Regions from separate parts of the Homo sapiens genome. Here region 1 is reported to be linked to region 2. The links are microRNA targets in miRTarBase. Many come from high-throughput screens and were not tested one by one. Region 2 holds a microRNA gene; the other region holds the end of a gene's coding sequence.

Evidence for each region. The annotated mature microRNA hsa-miR-4707-3p reads AGCCCGCCCCAGCCGAGGUUCU and lies in region 2 at 2,640-2,661, opposite strand. An mRNA with a match to its seed (bases 2 to 7 or 8) in the 3' UTR can be bound and repressed. Matches are read on the target gene's strand: a 7mer-m8 pairs with bases 2 to 8, a 7mer-A1 pairs with bases 2 to 7 and ends in A, and an 8mer does both.
Region 1: miRTarBase lists ZNF7 as a target of hsa-miR-4707-3p. Seed matches in the 3' UTR shown: 8mer at 390-397.

What each region holds. Positions count from the first base shown.
Region 1 is chr8:144,842,969-144,847,340 of GRCh38, forward strand. ZNF7 (zinc finger protein 7) reads left to right here. Exons shown (of 5, transcript NM_003416.4): 5 at 1-804. The coding sequence ends at 200. It also overlaps a transcript of COMMD5 not described here. Among named protein-coding and RNA genes, the nearest start is that of COMMD5, 7.9 kb to the right of the region's middle.
Region 2 is chr14:22,954,318-22,958,658 of GRCh38, forward strand. MIR4707 (microRNA 4707) reads right to left here and starts at 2,712; the gene lies at 2,633-2,712. HAUS4 (HAUS augmin like complex subunit 4) reads right to left here and starts at 2,773. Exons shown (of 10, transcript NM_001166269.2): 1 at 2,599-2,773; 2 at 783-859. The coding sequence starts at 837. It overlaps PRMT5-DT (PRMT5 divergent transcript), which reads left to right. Exons shown (of 3, transcript NR_110002.1): 3 at 14-375. RefSeq lists enhancers at 2,465-2,594, 2,977-3,556, 3,557-4,135 and a silencer at 3,935-4,295.

The DNA.
Region 1 (4,372 bases), not on the chromosome of region 2:
TTGTGAGCCGTAAAAAGGTTAATACTATAAAGAAACTGCATCAGTGTGAAGACTGTGAGAAGATATTTAGGTGGCGTTCACACCTAATTATACACCAGAGAATTCACACCGGGGAGAAGCCTTATAAATGCAATGACTGTGGCAAAGCTTTTAATCGTAGCTCAAGGCTTACCCAGCATCAAAAAATTCACATGGGATAGACCACTTACATATAAATGTGTATATATGTGAATAAACCTATAGCCTTAACTTACTTATTTTATATGGAATCGTTTATACTGACAAACATGTAGAATGTTGGTAAAGGTTCAGAATTGCTCTCAAGAATATCCAACTTCAGGCCGAGTGTGGTGGCTTATGCCTGTCATCCCAGCACTTTGGGAGGCCAAGGCGGGCACATCACGAGGTCAGGAGGTTGAGACCATCCTGGGTAACAGGTGAAACCCCATCTCTACTAAAAATACAAAAATTTAGCTGGGCGTGGTGGCAGGCACCTGTGGTCCCAGCTGCTCGGGAGGCTGAGGCAGGAGAATGGCATCAGCCCAGGAGGCGGAGCTTGCAGTGAGCTGAGATCGCGCCACTGCACTCCAGCCTGGGTGACAGAGTGAGACTCCCTCTCAAAAAAAAAAAAAAAAAAAAAAATCCAACTTCATACAAAATGTATGTTTATTTCCTGAAATGTTTGACCTTAACCTGTTCAATAAAGCCTGTGTCCCTCAAAATCAGGGTGCAGTCTGCAGTTTTGAGTTGACAGGTCCCTGTGAATGAGGAAGCAGCACAAGGAGGGCTCTACGAGCGCTGCTAGACTGAGTAGGTTAAAATAATTTACCTAAACTCTTTTCCCTTAAGTATCAGTGGCTCACACTGGCTTCAACAATACGGAAATGCATTAGCTCATGTTGGAGGAGGTCCAGGAGTGCCTAGAATTCCAACTTCAAATTAGGTCCTTGTCTTAGAACTTAACCCAGCCACCCAGGACCAGAGGGCCCAGCCCTATCCCCTTCCTCAGAGAGGCAGGCTGGGCTAGCAGGTACACGCCATCATTACTGGTGTGGTTGGCATTTATGGAGCACATACCAGTGCCAGGCACAGAAGCAAGGTGTCACAGCAAGGTTCTGAGGTCACACTTGTGTCCCAGGGGCTTGCTGTGTGACCTAGGACATCATTGCCCTCCCTGAAACTCAGAGCCTTATTTGTGTATCTGAAAACATGCACTGTGAGAGGGTACTGAGAGGAAACAATGTAGAGAAACATGCCTTACTGGGCCTGTCAGAGAACGAGCACTCAAGCAAATGCAAGTACCAACCCCCCCATCCATGCCAGCATCTCCAGCACACCCGTGTGCGCACAGGCCCTGAGGCTGATGACTGTCTTGTACTGGCCTAGTTGCCCCACTTTTTTTTGGTAGGGGGGAACGCGGTGAGGAGGAAATAAAGACAGTGGAGAAAAAGACGAAAATGGGCCGGGCGTGGTGGCTCACGCCTGTAATCCCAGCACTTTGGGAGGTCGAGGTGGGTGGATCATGAGGTCAGGAGATGAAGACCATCCTGGCTAACACAGTGAAACCCCGTGTCTACTAAAAATACAAAAAATTAGCCGGGCGTGGTGGCGGGCACCTGTAGTCTCAGCTACTTGGGAGGCTAGGCAGGAAAATGGTGTGAACCTGGGAGGCAGAGCTTGCAGTGAGCCAAGATCACGCCACTGCACTCCAGCCTGGGTGACAAGAGTGTGACTCTGTATCAAAAAAAAAAAAAAAAAAAAAAAAAAACGAAAATGGGATGGAAAGAAGGTGGTTGGGAAACAAATATGGGGAGAAGAACCTGAGAAGGGGTGATGAGAGGGAGTGGGGAAAGAAGATACTGGGAAGAAAAGATGGTTGAGTGAAGAACTTGGGGTGAGAGTGGGTTAGGAAGAAGGTGGAGAGGGAGTGGGGAAAGAGGACTCTGGGGAGAACTTAGGGAGAGGAAGTGGGGAAAAACGATGGTAGGGAAAAGAACTTGAGCTGCAGTGGGGGTAGACCAGCAGACCACAGGGTGAAAGGACAGATGGGAGGAGAAACAGGGGCAGGGTCAGGGAGGAGAACCCCAATTGCCTTACTTTACAGGGGAGGCCACACAGGTCTGGATGTAATTTATGGTGCGGGACAGCTTTCCTTAAAACTCAGCCTGAAAGACTGCCAAGAACTGAGGGTCTGAGATTTCATTCTTTGTAGAAGCTCACGAGAAATCCTGTGGCCATTCCACCTAGGAGGGGACGGCAGGCAGAATACTCACTGTGGTTGTCAGGGCCCTATCAGTTCCTTTTGCCCACCATTCCCATGACGCAGAGGCCCAGCAGGTGCAGGCACAGCTGAGAAACTCGGAGGTGAGGAGTGAGCCTGCTCTGTTGGGAGCTGGGGGGCCATTACCTCACCCCTCAGTTTTTTTTTTGCTGCTGACACAACCTTGAGAAGTGGCCCAGGTGGAGCACGGTGGGGTTCTTGGCACATGCAGGAACATGGAGGGAGGCGTGGCTGATGGCAGGTGGCTTGCTCAAGGCCTGATGCTTTTTTGCTGAAATTGAATTTTCACGTGAATCTGCTGCTCAACCCTAATCTAACAGGCTGGGACCTTGTCCATTTGATTTTCTCACACAGCATCTAATTAAGGCTGATATTCACAGGCATGAGGCCAACTGTAAGACCTCAACCCTGTCTCCACAGTCCTTGTCATTCAGGGGGAACCTGGAACTCCTGACTGGTGACCTCCCACCTGCCTCTTCAGGGGCTCCTCCCGGTGTACAAGGGTGATGGTGCTCTCCACAGCCATGGAGTCAGTGCATCCACTGTAACTGCCTCTTCTCCAGCCATGCCCTACTCACACCGGAACTTCTGTGCACGTGGAGTATGTGTGCAGTGTCCCTGCCTTGCGTCACGTGGCTGCTGAGAAGGGTCTTGGCAGGTAATGTGCTTAGCCAGGTGGTCACCTTCAGGTCTAGCACAGGGGTTGCTGTTGCTTTTTCTCTACTTCAGGCTTTCTGGGCCGCCCAACCATGGGACAAGAGCCAAGGCACCCACATGCACCGCCTGCAACTCCTGTTCCTGGCCTTCCAAAACACTGCTCACAAAGACTGACCCTGCCTCCTCCTGGGCTCTCGTCATCTCCTCTTGGCCACTTCCTGGTTCATGATCAGGACAGAAGGAGGGGAACGTCAGCCATATGGATGGTCTGAAAATTCCAGATTCTGTGCTAACCATAATGCTGTGTTCTTTTCACTAACAGCAACCAGCCAAAAAGGGGCTGGGGTGCAAGCTTCATTCTGCTTCAGCACCTGGATTCTCTCTGGATTGACATGGTCCTAAGTCAGGGGCTGGCAAACCATTCGTAGCTTTTTACATTTCTGAATGGTTGGGGAGAAAATAAGAGACTTGTGACATTTGAAAACTATGTTAAAATCGAATTTGACTGTGCACAGTGTCCCTGGGCTTGGTGATGCCCAAGCGTCTTCATGGAGCCTCTGGCGGCTTTCTTGCTGCAGCAGTGTTTACCACACCAGCCAAGTCACCTTGAACTTGGAAAATGACTTCATGCCCTCCAGCCACTGAAGGATTATTTTTCCTCTCAGCCCTTAGTGGTTTCTTTACCTAAATGTCACGGTACAACTGAGAATAAGGCAGCTGGGTCAGTTCAATAGAAGTAAACCTAAAGTCCAACAATCCAGGTTAGATATTAGCCACGGAGGGATGGGAGGAGGAGTCTTCTTTTTTTTTGAGACGGAATCTCGCTCTGTCCCTCAGGCTGAAGTGCAGTGGTGCGGTCTCGGCTCACTGCAAGCTCCGCCACCTGGGTTCACGCCATTCTCCTGCCTCAGCCTCCCGAGTAGCTGGGACTACAGGTGCCTGCTACCACGCCCGGCTAATTTTTTTGTATTTTTAATAGAGACGGGGTTTCACTGTGTTAGCCAGCTGGTCTCGATCTTCTGACCTCGTGATCCGCCCGCCTCGGCCTCCCTAAGTGCTGGGATGACAGGCGTGAGCCACCATGCCGAGCTGAGGAGGAGTCCTCTTCTAGCTGCACGATGTGGAAATGACACATCATGTCCATGGGGCAGCTTGCTGAGAGCCAAGGGTGTGAGCACATGACTTAAATTCAAGCTACTGCACAGCTTTGAGATCTGAGTATCACATGGAAGCATCCAGGTGGCCCCTGGCACACAGGCTGGTGGTTCTTTTGTGGAGAGGGAGAGGAAGAGGGGCTGCTCATGGGGTAGTGCAGGTGCTAGAATATCCTGTTAACCTGTTCACACTGCACTGCAATTCGGGCTTCGGTAAGCTCATCTAAAGAGTTTCCAGGCCAGGCACGGTGGCTCACGCCTGTAATTCCAGCACTTTGAG
Region 2 (4,341 bases):
CTTTTTCCCTAAGGTACTGAAGCATCCAATATGGAAATAGTCAAGATATAGAAAATGCAAGCTCTTGAAGGATTCAAGATATAGAAAGGATCTGAGATATGGAAAGAACTCAGGATATAGAAGGATCTGAAATTTTGGAGACTAAGATATGAGAATATTTAAGACACAGGTAGGAAGGACACCTTCAAGGAATTTGCTGGCTACCCTTATTTTTATAATATGCTTGCTAACATCAGCATGGGAGCATCTTGAGTTTTTAGCCTACTACACAAGCAGATATTGAACCAACATTAACAGGAATTAGTGTAGTCTGTTTTCCAATAAGAGAGTGTTCAAGGATCTTCATGTATTCCAGTTTCCTCAGAAACACATGCTTCTGTGAGGAAAACCATACTGGGGAAACTTATAAATCCTTTTTTTTTTTTTTTTTTGGAGTCTTGCTCTGTTGCCCAGGCTGGAGTACAGTGGCACGATCTCAGCTCACTGCAAGCTCCGCCTCCCAGGTTCACACCATTCTCCTGCCTCAGCCTCTGGAGTAGCTGGGACTACAGGTACCCACCACCACGCCCAGCTAATTTTTCGTATTTTTAGTAGAGACAGGGTTTCACCGTGTTAGCCAGGATGGTCTCGATCTCCTGACCTCGTGATCCACCCACCTCAGCCTCCCAAAGTGCTGGGATTACAGGTGTGAGCCAATAAATGCTTTTTACTAGAAAAGGCAAGAACCTGGATAAGACCTCTCTGGATAAATCATCAAACCTTTTGCAAGTGGCTACTCTTACCTTGTTGAAGTATTTCCATCCCTTCTCCAGGTGAGCAGAAATCCCCGGATGCCATTTGATTTTCTTGGGATTCTAATCTGTGGAACCAAGAAGTGAAAGAAAACAAAAAGATGAATAAACAGCTGGCTGCTCCAAGGACACTACCTTATGTTCAAATTTCTGCTGTCCACAAGCTGGAAAGGAACCTCAAGGATGACTTTTACAGAGGGCCTATACCACACATCCTGGGTCCCAAGCTCTTACACAAGCTTTATGGACAAACAGATTTACAAGTGCCAAAACATGTCACATTCTAAGCACACATGTGTTTCCACTTGCTCCAAGCTGTCCAAAAGGAGCATCCTAAAAAGAGAACTTTCCAATTCACTGAGTCTAAACAAGAGGATTCTCCACCACCACCACCATTATGCCAAAGTTAAAACTGAGCTGCAGCTTCCCAGTTATGAGTGAACTGGGGGAAAAGGGAAAAAAATCAAAGTCTACTTTTTCCCCCCAAATAACTCAGCTATCAAATTCCATAATAGTTTTTTTGTGCTTCTTTTTTTGTCTAAGATCTGTTGGTAGTTTTTTTTTTTTTTATCATTAACTCTAGAATCATCCTTCAGGAATGACAAATCATTCCACACTTGAACAACTGGTTTTCACATAACAGCCTAAGAAAAGAGCACCTGGAGGAAACAGCGTGACAAGAAGACTGACAGTGAGGTCAGTGGCAAAAGAGTAATGCAAAGGTGTAATGTGGCTACAACGAGAACGTGAGCTGTGGGTGTTTTGCCAGAACATGGAGTGCGCTGAAAGGAATGACACCAACACAGGGGCAGTAAAGATGGGCACAGTTTGACCTCAGGAGACAAAAATTTTCCCTTGACATTACTTTTCATGTTTTTGCTCTGCCCCTCCTCTCTGCAAGGTATCAAACTCCAAAGGGCAACTGAGCCTCCCAAAGCTGAACAGGCATTGAAGGTTATTATGATTTAACGCTTCATGTTTATAGAACATTTGGTTTACTCGATCGTTTTATGAGTAACATCAAAGTAACTACTCATTTGTTTTCTAACATGGTCTAGAGGGGGACGCAGCTGAGGAGGCAGAATGCTGGGACTTAATTTGCAGCTCGGCCGGCCGTTGCTTCTGAGAACTTAAGGAAAATGCTTTTTTCTGTGCCAAACTTTTCCCACCTGCAAAACTGAGATAACGATTCCTGCCTTGGATGAGACATTAAGAATTAATAACACAATCGACTTGTCAACAAAAGCCACTACTTAGTTAAGTTCAGTGTTTTAACAATTCTGTTTATCGTTGATCTATGACTGCAAATAAAAAGTTTTGCAGGCAAATTTCGCACTTGGAAATGAAGACCAACCCAAATTCCAAAAAGCTAGCTGTTCGTCCCCCCCTAGGGTAAGTGTCCCCTTGCGTTTTTTAGGGTGCCTTTCTTTACCCTTCTTAAAGGTTACAGGGCGTGAACGGCAATCAGGCTCGATTCTCCACCCTCTGCACTCAGACGTGTTAAAACGCTGCTACAGGGACCCAAGCATTTAAATGTTCTGACTCAGGCGTCTTTTAAATTCTTAGAGCTGTCTTTACACGCTGCACTGAACGTTAAATTGATTTTACAGGTTATTTTCACAAGATATGACCCTTACAGGGCCCGAGATGAATCAAAATGCAGAACGGGCTCTCCGGCGCCTACTTCCCTTCTGTCTGGGCGGCCAAGGATTCCCAAGAGCGACGACGGTCTCCGGCCACTGGCCGGAATGACTCTCCCAGAGCTCCTCTTCCCCGAAGCTCCGCCCGCCGACCCTCTAAAGCAAACCTGCACACCCTGGGGCAGCTGAAGCTCTCAAGGCGGTGCCGAGAACCTCGGCTGGGGCGGGCTGGCCAGCAGCGTCTACACCCCAGAACCCGCCCGCGCCGGGGCTCCGGAACCTCTCGTTCGGGCCGGGCGCAGGGGCTGGGGGAAGCGAGGCCCGGAAAGACCAAGCTGAAAGGCCCGGGAAGGGGAAGGAGCCGAAAGTGCACTAGAGGCCGCGACGAAGGAGGTGGAGGCGGGGCCACACTCGAGGCGGGAACGGCAGGCCCCGCCCCTCGACGGGTGCGCGCTGGGTTCCCAACGCCCTGGGTTCGCATGCTCGGGTGGTGGAACCCGGACTGGGAAACAGGATGGTCTCGGAAAGGCTTTTTTGCCCCTTCTCATTAGTGCCTCCCCAGTGAAGGGCAGATGCTGAGAAAATGGTGGTAATTGCTAACATTTATTGAGGGCCTACGATGAGTCAGGCACTACGCCAAGCATTTTGCTTGCCTTGCCTCGTTTTTTTTTTGAGACGGAGTCTCGCTCTGTCGCCCAGGCTGGGGTGCAGTGGCGCAATATCGGCTCGCTGCAAGCTCCGCCTCCCGGGTTCAAGCAATTCTCTGCCTCAGCCTCACGAGTAGCTGGGATTACAGGTGCCCGCCACCACGCCCGGCTAATTGTTGTATTTTTAGTAGAGACGGGGTTTCACCGTGTTAGCCAGGATGATCTGGATCTCCTGACCTCGTGATCCACCCGCCTCGGCCTCCCAAAGTGCTGGGATTACAGGCGTGAGCTACCGCCCTCGGCCAGGCCTCGTTTAGTTCTTAAAGCGTCCTGTGAGAAAGTCACCATTATACTCATTTTACAGAGGGGGAGAACTGAGGCACAAAGGGTTAAGTTCGAGGTCGCCATTTGGGGGGTCTAAACCTGTCCCAATAGCTCTCGGAAGGAACCTTCCCAGACCTGCCACCCAAGCCGCGTCCTGCGAGTCTCCTCACTAAGGCCTGGCTCTGAGGCGCTGCCGCCCAGCCCAGCCCAGCCCAGCCCAGCCCATGCCGGGCACCATACAGTGCTTCCTCAGGGTCACCTTCCTCTCGAATTCCCACCACAGACTCCCTATTAGCGCGCATTCCTCATTCGCCTGTTTTGTTTGTTTGTTTGTTTGTTTTCTTGGGGGTACGGAGTTTCGCACTTGTTGCCCAGGCTGGAGCGCAGTGGCACGATCTCGGCTCACCGCAACCTCCACCTCCCAGGTTCAAGCGATTCTCCTGCCCTAGCCTCCTGAGTAGCTGGGATTACCCGCACGAGCCACCACGCCTGGCTAATTTTTATATTTTTAGTAGAGACAGAGTTTCACAATATTGGCCAGGATGGTCTCGCACTCCTGACCTCAAGCAATCTGCCCGGCCAAATATCTTTCACCTGTCTTAATCTTTTTTTTTTTTTTTTTCCAGACGGAGTCTTGCTCTGTTGCCAGGCTGGAGTGCAGTGGCGCGATCTCTGCAACCTTCACCTCCCGGGTTCAAGCGATTCTCCTGCCTCAGCCTCCTGAGTAGCTGGGACTACAGGCGGGCGCCACCACGCCCAGGTAATTTTTTTTGTATTTTTAGTAGAGACGGGGTTTCACCACGTTGGCCAGGATGGTCTCAGTCTCCTGACCTCGTGATCCGCCCGCCTCGGCCTCCCAAAGTGCTGGGATTACAGGCATGAGCCACCGCGCCCGGCCCACCTGTCTTAACCTTAAACCCAACCCTCACTCCCACCCAC